Regions from separate parts of the Homo sapiens genome. Here regions 2, 3 and 4 are each linked to region 1. The links come from fine-mapping of genetic effects on gene expression. A gene starts in region 1. Each other region holds a variant in brackets. All regions are shown on one strand. Distances are between the middles of the regions. Region 1 holds the start of RPS24 (ribosomal protein S24). Region 2 overlaps KCNMA1 (potassium calcium-activated channel subfamily M alpha 1). Region 3 overlaps DLG5 (discs large MAGUK scaffold protein 5). Region 4 overlaps KCNMA1 (potassium calcium-activated channel subfamily M alpha 1).

Evidence for each region. PIP is the estimated chance that this variant, and not a neighbour inherited with it, causes the effect. A credible set is the group of variants that fine-mapping cannot tell apart.
Region 2: its variant is the best candidate, but not a certain one, in a credible set for the expression of RPS24 in whole blood (INTERVAL, PIP 0.63).
Region 3: its variant is the best candidate, but not a certain one, in a credible set for the expression of RPS24 in whole blood (INTERVAL, PIP 0.60).
Region 4: its variant is the best candidate, but not a certain one, in a credible set for the expression of RPS24 in whole blood (INTERVAL, PIP 0.70).

The regions. Positions count from the first base shown.
Region 1 is chr10:78,032,813-78,035,414 of GRCh38, forward strand. RPS24 (ribosomal protein S24) reads left to right here and starts at 1,051. Exons shown (of 6, transcript NM_033022.4): 1 at 1,051-1,092; 2 at 2,540-2,602. The coding sequence starts at 1,090. RefSeq lists an enhancer at 851-1,380.
Region 2 is chr10:77,590,322-77,592,923 of GRCh38, forward strand. The region is part of intron 1 of KCNMA1 (potassium calcium-activated channel subfamily M alpha 1); the gene reads right to left. Among named protein-coding and RNA genes, the nearest start is that of KCNMA1, 46 kb to the right of the region's middle. RefSeq lists a silencer at 2,173-2,361. The variant C/T (reference allele first, on the strand shown) is at 1,251.
Region 3 is chr10:77,809,245-77,811,846 of GRCh38, forward strand. DLG5 (discs large MAGUK scaffold protein 5) reads right to left here. Exons shown (of 32, transcript NM_004747.4): 23 at 1,850-1,990; 24 at 303-486. Among named protein-coding and RNA genes, the nearest start is that of DLG5, 120 kb to the right of the region's middle. RefSeq lists an enhancer at 1-14. The variant C/T (reference allele first, on the strand shown) is at 1,624.
Region 4 is chr10:77,554,082-77,556,683 of GRCh38, forward strand. All of the region lies in intron 1 of KCNMA1 (potassium calcium-activated channel subfamily M alpha 1), which reads right to left. Among named protein-coding and RNA genes, the nearest start is that of KCNMA1, 82 kb to the right of the region's middle. The variant A/T (reference allele first, on the strand shown) is at 1,222.

The DNA.
Region 1 (2,602 bases):
CCAATTTTTTTTTTTTTGTAGTAGAGACGGGGTTTCGCCATTTTGCCCAGGCTGGTATCGAACTTCTGACCTCAGGTCATCTACCTGCTTCGGCCTCCCAAAGTGTTGGGATTATAGGCGTGAGCCACTGCCCCTGGCTTCCAATTTTTTTTTCCTTTTTTTTCTTTTCTTTTTTTTTTTTTTCTGAGACGGATTTTCGCTCCTGTTGCCCAGGCTGGAGTGCAATGGTGTGATCTCGGCCCACTGCAACCTTTGCTTCCCGGGTTCTGGCGATTCTCCTGCCTCAGCCTCCCGAGTAGCTGGGATTACAGGCATGAGCCACCACGCCCCGCTAATTTTGTATTTTGTATTTATTTATTTATTTATTTTCGTAGATACGTGGTTTCGCCATGTTGGCCAGGCTGGTATCGAACTCCTGACCTCAGGTGATCCGCCCGCCTTGCCCTCCCAAAGTGCTGGGATTACAGGCGTGGCCATCGCGCCCGGCCAAATATTTTTCAAAATCTAATTTTGCATAATGACCAAGATTTGCAGAAAAATACAAATTAAAGAGATCTTTTAAAGTAAAGATTCGTCATAAAAGTCACAGAAATAATACTCATGAATAATAAATTAGAATGGGCAATGTTAAGTACTTGAAATAACAAAGGTTTTAGAGTCAGGGTTTCTGCAGTTTCCCTAGCCATATAACGAGGAGACTGTTAGAGAGGATATCCTAAAATGCTTTCCAAGTTTACCCACCTCTAACTCGGAAGAAGGCAATTTAAACTAATTTGGTTTACCGGAATTCAAATACGTACAATTCAACATAATGAATTGAACTGAAATTGAACACCTGCTTGCGTAAACCTAGTCGGCTCGAGTTGTTCTGGTTCTGGATTGGTCAGTCTAGAGTTCCAGGGGTGTGGCCAAAAGTCTGTGAGGCGGGGCCGTAGGCAGCCTAAATCAGGCATCGGCGCGGTCAGCCTCGTGGCGCGCCCACGCCCCCACGCCGGCTCTTCCCGGGGTCCTTCCGTGCGCGTTGATATGATTGGCCGGCGAATCGTGGTTCTCTTTTCCTCCTTGGCTGTCTGAAGATAGATCGCCATCATGGTGAGTCTCCCTGGGCCCGTGCAGTCATCTGCCGCGTATCCGAGCCATCCGTGGTCCCTGGGTCCCAGTACTTGAGCTATAGGCACGCGAAGCCCGGTTGCTCTTCTCTGGCCGTTTCTGTCAGAGGATGGTTGTCGAGGGGCTCGGGGCTGTTGGCAGGGCGTCCGGGCTGGCGGGCTGCGCTGTAGACCCGGACACGCTGGGCTTCGGGCTCCAGCGCCTGGGCAGTGCAGGAGCTGTTGCGCTTGTTGACTTCGTGGAGCACGGTGGATGGGGGTAGGGGGCGGGCGGGATAGATGGACACTGGGAGGCACATCTCGTCTGCAGTTCCTCATTGGGCTAGGTAGGCGGCTTGCAGGTGATGGCAGTACAAGAGGTGAAGAAGGTGCGGGCAGCGCCTGGGCGAGTTGCGGCAAGTGAAACCATTCCCACGTGTAAGCTAGAAAACTTGTCAGCTGGATGGATCTTCATGTTTCATAGTGGGGAAACAGGCCCTGGAAAGAGATGTTATAAAAAGGTAGTCCTGCCCTAAGTCATGCGTTATTAGCTCCTCCAGCATCCGTTTTTAACTTTACCAGCAATCTTTTTTTTTTCTCCTTACCTTTGATCCGTTACTTTCAAGAATTGAGTACCACTGACGTGGATTTAATTTGGTGTGGTTTCTCAAAGTAAAATGGAGAAAGTCTAGGAAGTTATTTGCTGCCATGAAAGTCTCTTGCGCCTCCTTTTTGGTAAAATTGTTAGCATAAATTGCTTAATGCCCACATTTTTTGTTAGGTATTAAGTAAAGGTGCAGTTCAGTCCTTCAGAAGGGAATATCGTTTTCTCTGATCTCTGCTATGGCCATTCTAGAAGGATAGATTACATGTAGGTAGTGAGTACAAGGTTTGGGGCACATTTGTGCAAGACATGATAAACACAGTTCATTGAGTGACCTTTATATGAGCCACAGCAGTTTTTACCCCAGAGAAGTGATTCTCAACCCGGAGTGATTTTTCTCCTAAGGGAACAGTTGGCTAAGTCTGGAGACATTTTTGATTGTCACAACTGGGAAAGGTGGGAAGTGCTTCCGGCATCTAGTGGTTAGAGGGCTGGGATTTTTATAGTTATTCTAAAACATACAGTCCCCACAACATATCCATATGGAATTATCCATATGGAAATATCAGTAGTGCTGAGGTTGAGAAACCCTGCCCCAGAGATACACATAACCTAGTGAAGTAAGTTGTACAGATTCATGTGTAAAACCATTGTGTTTTCCTGGTATTTTATGTATTCCTTAGGTGTATCCTGTGAGTTTGGCCTTGCCCAGTGGGTTTTATTTACTTTAGTTCGCTACATGACTAATGGCTACAAATTGGACTGCAACATTCTAGGTCTTGGAAAATCACAGCAAGGCCAAGAAAAGTTGGAGTAGTTTTATTAACCAGAGTGTTTATGTTTTCAGAACGACACCGTAACTATCCGCACTAGAAAGTTCATGACCAACCGACTACTTCAGAGGAAACAA
Region 2 (2,602 bases), 440 kb before region 1:
TGGAGCAGGGGGCGGCGCTCCTCGGGGAGGCTCGGGCAGCACAGGAGCCCACGGAGGGGCAGGGAGGCTCAGGCATGGCGGGCTGCAGGTCCTGAGCCCTGCCCTGCGGGAAGGCAGCTAAGGCCCGGTGAGAAATTGAGCACAGCAGCTGCTGGCCCAAGTGCTAAGCCCGCTGAGCCCACACCCACCCGGAACTCGCGCTGGCCCGCAAGCACCGCTGGCAGCCCCTGTTCCCGCCCGCGCCTCTCCCTCCACACCTCCCCGCAAGCTGAGGGAGCCGGCTCCGGCCTTGGCCACCCCAGAAAGGGGCTCCCACAGTGCAGCAGCGGTCTGAAGGGCTCCTCAAGTGCCGCCAAAGTGGGAGCCCAGGCAGAAGAGGCGCCCAGAGCGAGCGAGGGCTGTGAGGACTGCCAGCACGCTGTCACCTCTCACTACCACCGCCAGATGCTAAGTCTAAATTTATTTAAATTTCTAAAGGTTTTCTCCCTCCTTCCCAGAACCTCTCCCTCCTGAAAAAGGTCCAGCTGCTTCTGTACCAGACACTCTAGCGAGACTCAAATGTTCTTCCTGACCAAATGCCCACCTCAAGAAGAACCTGGAGCCAGGAAGAAACCAAGGGTGGCCACACACCTCATCTGCCCTGCTGTGCTGGTGCCAGGCGAGAAAACAGAAATAGAGCCACGGAGCTCAACAGCAACACCTCATATGGTGCCAGCAGACAGCGAGCAAGGCCCAGGCAGATAAACACATTAAGGCAGGCTGTGCAGCGCAGGCCACGTCCAGGCCTCAGAGGGACTTCATCTCAGCCAGCCAAGGTCAACTCCATTCTAAGGCTTAGTCAGCCTCCTCCTCTGGGGGCTCAGACTCCCCTGGCCAAGATCACTCATGTACCAAGAGGATTGGACAAGGCCACGAGTGAGGCCAGGTGCCAGCAGGGCAAAGGCAGGCAAAAGGCACCACAGATCGCATGTGGTGGCAGCAAGCCAGCTGTGTATAGATTCAAGCCTCAGACCCACCTCTGAAAATCCTACCCTACTCAAGCCTGACCACCTCCTCCAGGAAGCCCTCCTGGCTCTTGCTAATTAGCAGTAAATTGTGTGTTCTCTTAACATCTAGAGTAATACTTCTCAACATAGGGTTGCGAGACCAGCATCATCAATAAGCACCACCTGGGAAGTTGCTGGAACTGCTGTTGGAAGTTCTCAGGCCCCACCCAGGCCAAGCAACTTAGAAACTCTGAGGGTGGGACC[C/T]AGCAATTGGTGTTTTAATAATGTCCTCCTAGTGATTCTAAAGCAGGCTGTGGTTTGGGAGCCACTAATCCAAAGTCTAGATTCTAAACCACTAACTGGACACCTGTGTTTTACATGCAATCCCTGTGCTCCTGGCTTCCCTGGGAATGTGGTTGCATTTCAGAGCCTGGATCGCACATGCCCATCAATCCCCCACCTTGCCCAGCCCAGGATGCCACAGCAAGTACTTCCTCAGCAAACACCTGTGGAATTTAATTAGCTTGAGTTCAGATACCACCATCAGGTTACAAAATCACAGAACCTGAATGCTGAAAGAGGCTTTAGTGCCCATCCAGCCCAACTGCCCATCAAGGCTCTGCCAGGACCCAGCTTCTCCACGTTTCTCTCAGGTCAGGTCAGATGCTCCACTAATGCCTGGGAGTTCAGTCTCATTCGTTCGCCCAGCAAATATTGACTGAGCATGGGTGCGAGGCACACACAGATGTTCCTGCACACAAGTGAACGAGACCAATGAGAATCCTTGCTCGGAGGGAGCAGATATTCCAGTGGCAGGAGAGACCCAATCAATAGCAATAAATAAATAAAACAAAAAAAAACCCATATGCTTTAACCATTAGAAAACATCAGACACACCAAAATATACAGACCGCCTATGAAAATAACTAACCAGCACTCTTCACCAATGTCAAAGTCATGAAAGGTAAGGAAAGACGAGTCACAAAAGCACACTAAGGAGACATGGTGGGTACATGCAATGTGGGACCCTGGACTGGATCCTGGAAAAGAAAAACAGCATCAGTGGGAAAAGTGATGATATTTGAGGAAGGCTTAAAGTTTGACATGCAGTTTTAGACCAACATGAAACTTGTTCTTTTCTATAGTGATGTAAGATGTGAACAATTACGGGAAACTGGCTAACAGGTAGACAGGAATTCTCTGTACTAATTTGCAAATTTTCTGTATAATATTTTGATGGCAAATCCAGTTGGGAAAGATGGTCCAAATAAGAGGTGAGGTGCAGTTGGCATCCTTAAATAGAGAAGTGACATGTGGGCAAGATGACATTTGGGCAAGACCCAGAGGCAGGAAAGGGGCCAACCAGTGGCACTGTGAATGACATGAGGCCAAACTCAGTCTTGCCAGGATGTTTACCCGTTTGTGCTTGTTCTTCTATCCAGATGAATTCTGACCACGCTTTGAACACTTACAATAATGCTGGAGGACCCTCAGTCTTCTCTTTAGAGGAGGCCTCACAGTCCTGCAGCTGTGCCCACTGAGTGTGCCCCGGCAGCCTGAGCCCCTGGAGTGGACAGTAAGAGAGAGCGCACAAAGGCAGTGGGGTCCAATAAAGA
Region 3 (2,602 bases), 220 kb before region 1:
AAAATATAAAAATTAGCCGGGTATCGTGGCACATGCCTGTAGTCCCAGCTACTCGGAAGGCTGAGGCAGGAGAATCGCTTGAACCTGGGAAGTGAAGGTTGCAGTGAGCTGAGATTGTGCCAGTGCACTCCAGCCTGGGCGACAGAGCAAGACTCTGCCTCAACAACAACAACAAAAGTCAGCCCTGACTGGCTCACCAGATGAGAGGCTGTACTCCTCCGTCTTTGGTGCCACCTGAGATGGCAGCAAGCCCACTGTGCAGGTAGATGGAGGCCTGGCCTGCTCAGCAGCTCAGAACTCACCTCCAGGATGAGGTCCCCTGGCACGAGGCCGTCAGGACCCTTGGCAGGACTGTCATCCTCCACCTCGGCCACAAACACCCCATGCAGGTTCCCACCACACAAGTGCACCCCAAGCTCCAGCTGGGACTTTTTGATGAAGACAACGCGTGGCTCCAGGGTCTTCTTGTTGGCATCTCCCGCAATCCTTTCAGGAAAAAAACAAAGTTCCTCAACTGTGCACAAAGAGGAGGCACAAAAAGACAAAGCAGTGGCCAATGCCCTAACCGCTTTCTGCCTGCTTCTTGGGGTCTCAGAACCACAGGGAGCTGAGAGGTGGCCTCTAGTTCTACTGGCTCGGCGTTCGGGACAGGATGCTAAGGTGCACTGGAGATGAAGGCAAGACCCCAGGTCCAAAGCCAGTTAGCGGGGGCAGTCAAAACCGTAAATCAGTGCCCCTGCTCCCAGGCCCGGCTATCAATCTCATGCCTTAAAGATCAGGATGGCCTCCCTCCCATGTGGATCACACTCATTTTCCTAACTTAGTACTTCCTAAGGAAAGGTAAAGTTGGCCTCACTGTCCAGAGCACAGCAATGTATTCAGCAAATGTCTACGAAGAAGCTTCTATAGACCAGCAACTGCTAACTTGTGAAGAGGGGCCCCTTGCCATCAAGGCACTTACAATCAAGGAAGGGAAGCTGAAAGTAAGCTGCTGAACACATGGAGGGAGTGAGATGGGACAGCGATGGAAACAGATACAGGGGGCTTCAGGGGAGATGCCAGCCCGGGAGGAAAACCTTGCAGCAGGTAAGTTCCAATGTGACAGACTCTGGTATAGAGAATGCAGAGCTGGCCTCATTCTGTGAGATGCTGCCCAGGGCTTGGTGAAGGCCTCTCAGTGCTGGAGACACAGCTCCTCCAGGACGGCAGAGTGATCATGTCACACCATGGCCTGGATGGCCCTCCCTGCAGCCCCAGGCCAGGCTGGACGCTGTGCAGCTCCCATGGAGCTCCTTCCTCCTCCTGAACTCTGCTGCTCCCTCGGCCTGGACTTCTCTTTATGCCCACTCTTGGCTCTTGCCTGTCCTGAACATTTTAATCCAGCTGCCACCTCCCCTGCCACACTCCAGTGATCTTCCTGCCTGCTCTGCGGCGGCCGGCAGTGCCCTCCCAGCACCCTGACTCTGCTGCACGTGCCCGGCACTGGTCTGCCACCTCATTGGGGGAAGCACTGCTGTGGGTGGCCAGAGCCCAGGGCCTGGCCGGGTGATGACTGTGGGAATGTGTCCAAAGACAGACTCAGAAAGCGAGTGAACAAGAAAAGGAGAAGAGAAAGAGAAGATG[C/T]AGGGGAAAAAACAAGTCAATAGAAAACAGGAGAAAAAGAGAAAGGAAAAGAGAGAGTAGGGAAGGAAAAAAGGAATGCCGTGCTCCCGGCCCAACTCCTGAAGACCTGGTGTGCGGCCTGCAGCACATGAGGCCAGCTGCCCAGTGCCCACGCCACTTGGAGAATGTGCTCAGCCCCACCCAGCCGAAGCGGACACAGGGAAGGCTCACAGCAACGTCTGCTGACCTGGAGCTGCTCTGCTTGGCTGGGGGGGTGCTAGGCCCCTCGTCCTGCTCCATCAGTGGGTCGATGACAGATGGATGCTCCGGGGTGGTGGTGCCACTGCCCTGGAGAGTGGAGTGGGTACCGGCAGGGTCCAGGTGTGAGCTGGAGGCGGAGGACAGGAGGGATAAGGAGCAGTACGAAGCCACCCAGAGCCACCCCCACTCCTGTGGCAACTAGATCTGAGCTATAAATGGGGACCAGGTCACATAGCCCTGCACCCTGTGCCCTGAGCAGAGCAGACACATTAGAAGCCTGGACCCATGACATCCACCTGTCCTCTCCCCTCCACCTGTCCTCAGCTCAGGGGCCCTCTCCAAAGGCATCTGACCTCAGGAAGCTGTGAGCATCCTGTCTCTTTTCCTCTGCCTGTGCATCCCATCTCTCCTGCTGAGCTTGTGGCGCAGCACTGCAGGGCATGCCTCCCCTTCTTTTCTGCCCTTCAACCCACAGCTCAGGGGCAGATACAGACAGGTGTACAGCATCTGCTCCTGGACAGGGAGCCAAACACTTTGAGTGAGAATCCACCCCCGGGGCCACAACTCCTGGCTACCATGGGCCCCTGCTGGTCAGGGGGACCACAGCCATCTGTTTCCACACCCCATTTCAGGAGGAGACAGCCTCTCTATATATGCCCCTTTTCCAAAATCCAGGGCTGGTCAACTCTCTCTTTAGCAGCAGTAGGATCCCCAGAACTTACGGCTGGCACCCTGGGTC
Region 4 (2,602 bases), 480 kb before region 1:
ACTGGGCGACACAAGCTCTTCAAAGCAAGCTGAGTAAATCTCTTGGTAACAAGCCAAGCCGGACTGCCCACAGCTATGGGCAGGTCTGCTGTGTCTTTCGCCTGCTGAAAGCCCAGGTTGCAGCACAGGGAACAGCAGAGACAGGATCAAAGGCTCTCTGAGGACAGTCTGTGGCAACAAAGTAGCAGCTCCTCTCTGATGAGGTAAGGAAGAGTCCAAAGAAATTACTTTTGGGCTGGGTGTGGTGGCTCACACCTATAATCCCAGCACTTTGGGAGAACAAGGCAGGCAGCTCACTTGAGGTCAGGAGTTTTAAGACCAGCCTGGCCAACATGGTAAAACCTCCTCTCTACTAAAATACAAAAATTAGCTGAGCGTGCTAGTGTGCACCTATAATCCCAGCTACTCAGGAGGCTAAGGCAGGAGAATCACTTGAACCTGGGACGCAGAGGTTGCAGTGAGCCGAGATTGCACCACTGCACTCCAGTCTGGGTGACAAGAGTAATACTCCATCTCAAAAAAAAAAAAAAAAAAAAAGAAAGAAAGAAAAGAAAAGAAAGAAAGAGAAAGAGAAAACACTTTTGAAATTTGGAAATGAGGAAGACTAAGGAAGAGTCCAAAAGAAACTTTGCCTCTGCCCAAGGAGCCCACAAACTTTCCAAGGCCTTCCTGTTCCTGGAAACGGTGCCATCTCCAAAGACTCCTCCGCACATGGAAGAGCCTGATCTCTCGGGCACAGTCAACCATTACGGCCCATTTTCTCAAACTAGGCCCTCCTGGGGGTCTTAGGGAAAGGGGGCAACATTACACAAGGCAGGTGAAGGGGATAGCCAATCACAGAGGGGTGCAGGTTGGCATTGACCTCTTCCTAACTTTTCTCATAATATGAAAGTGACTTCTCTTCTCAGAAGAACCGTTCATAATGAAATTCGAGCTGCCTCAATCTTCCTTGATCATCTCTTCACTCTTACCACATACACACACGCACGCACACCACAGGAAAACGCATCAGATGAAGAACTTCCCCAGTCCAGTGCAGATTTAAGAAAGAGGACACTGACATAGGGAGGTGGGCTGGGGAGCTGGGGAGGGGGCAGACAAACAAGGGCATGTGACTGATACACTTCAGGGCGGGAGTCAGACGGCCCCCTCACAGGCCAGGGTGACATGTGACAAAGTCACAAGGCCCTGTGGTATTTCTTGAAACTTGATTTCAGCCCA[A/T]GTCAAACTCCATGGATCAAGGGTCATTTCTGGCTATTATAGGATGAGAGTATCCAGGACTGAAGACCTCATGGGGCAGAAAGAAAAAAAACAGAAAGGTAGCTCTTGGAGAAATAACCTAAAGATTAGAATCAAGGAAGAGCCAACCTCTCTTCTAACAGGGAAAAAAAATTTACTAAAATGACACTTCAGCATCACCTATTTTTTCAAGCTTGTCTTTCTGAACAGAACTTGAAAACACAGTTGTAAAACTGTTTTACTAGTTCAGCCGACTTAGAAAAACAAAAAGAGCTTCTCACAGCTTTAAACAGAGTCCTGTGCTGAAGTGTTCCAACACTCCAGCCCCACTCTGGGGTTAAGAATGACAGATGATGCAATGTAAAAACATCATTTTCCACTGGACACAGAGAACATGGTACAATACTTTGGAGGTTAAACAGATGAGAAGGGAACAGTACAGAGACCCAAACTTAGCTCCTCCATGCCTCTAGCACACACATATGCCTCATGGAAGGCATCTGGAGAGGTTAGTGCTAGAGAGGCCAGAAATCTTGTTTCTGGTTCTGTGCTGGAATTAACTAGGTAAACCCTGGATGAACTGTTACATCTTTGATCGTCACTACCTGAGAATTAACTTAGACAAACATTGACACTCTATAAAGCAGCAATTGCAAAATGTGGGTTTTCAAAAGCACTCTGAGTTCTTTTCAAAGAGGATGGCATAAGAATCGACACAGCTGACATATGGTGTGGACAGAGAGAAATAGCTTGGGCTTGGATTTCCGGTCAGTTCCCCTTTCTGCCAGTTACCATCAGAGGAACCATGGGCAAATTACCCAATCTCTCTGAGCCTGTGTCTTCACCTTTAAAAATGGTATTATAGTTCTCAAAGTAATTGCGAGGAATTAAAAGTCAATTCAGGGTCAGGCGCGGTGGCTCATGCTGTAATCCCAGCACTTTGGGAGGCCGAGGCAGGTGGATCATTTGAGTTTAGGAGTTCGAGACCAGCCTGGCCAACATGGTGAAACCCCATCTCTGCTGAAAATACAAAAACTAGCCAGGCATAGTAGCATGTGCCTGTAATCCTAGTTACTCGGGAGGCTGAGGCAGGAGAATTGCTTGAGCCTGGTAGGCAGAGGTTGTGGTAAGCCGAGATCACACCACTGCACTCCAGCCTGGACAACAGAGTGGGACTATCTCAAAAAAAAAAAAAAAAAAAAAAAAGGGAATTCTATGCCCTGTAAAGTGCAGTCTATGGAAGTGATGATGATGAAGACCAGGATACAGTACAATAAGGACTCTTTATGCTTTCAAAACCGTGATTATGCTGCATCTGGTGGAAGCCAGGACTCTGGAAATATGGCCCAGACACACCCAGAAC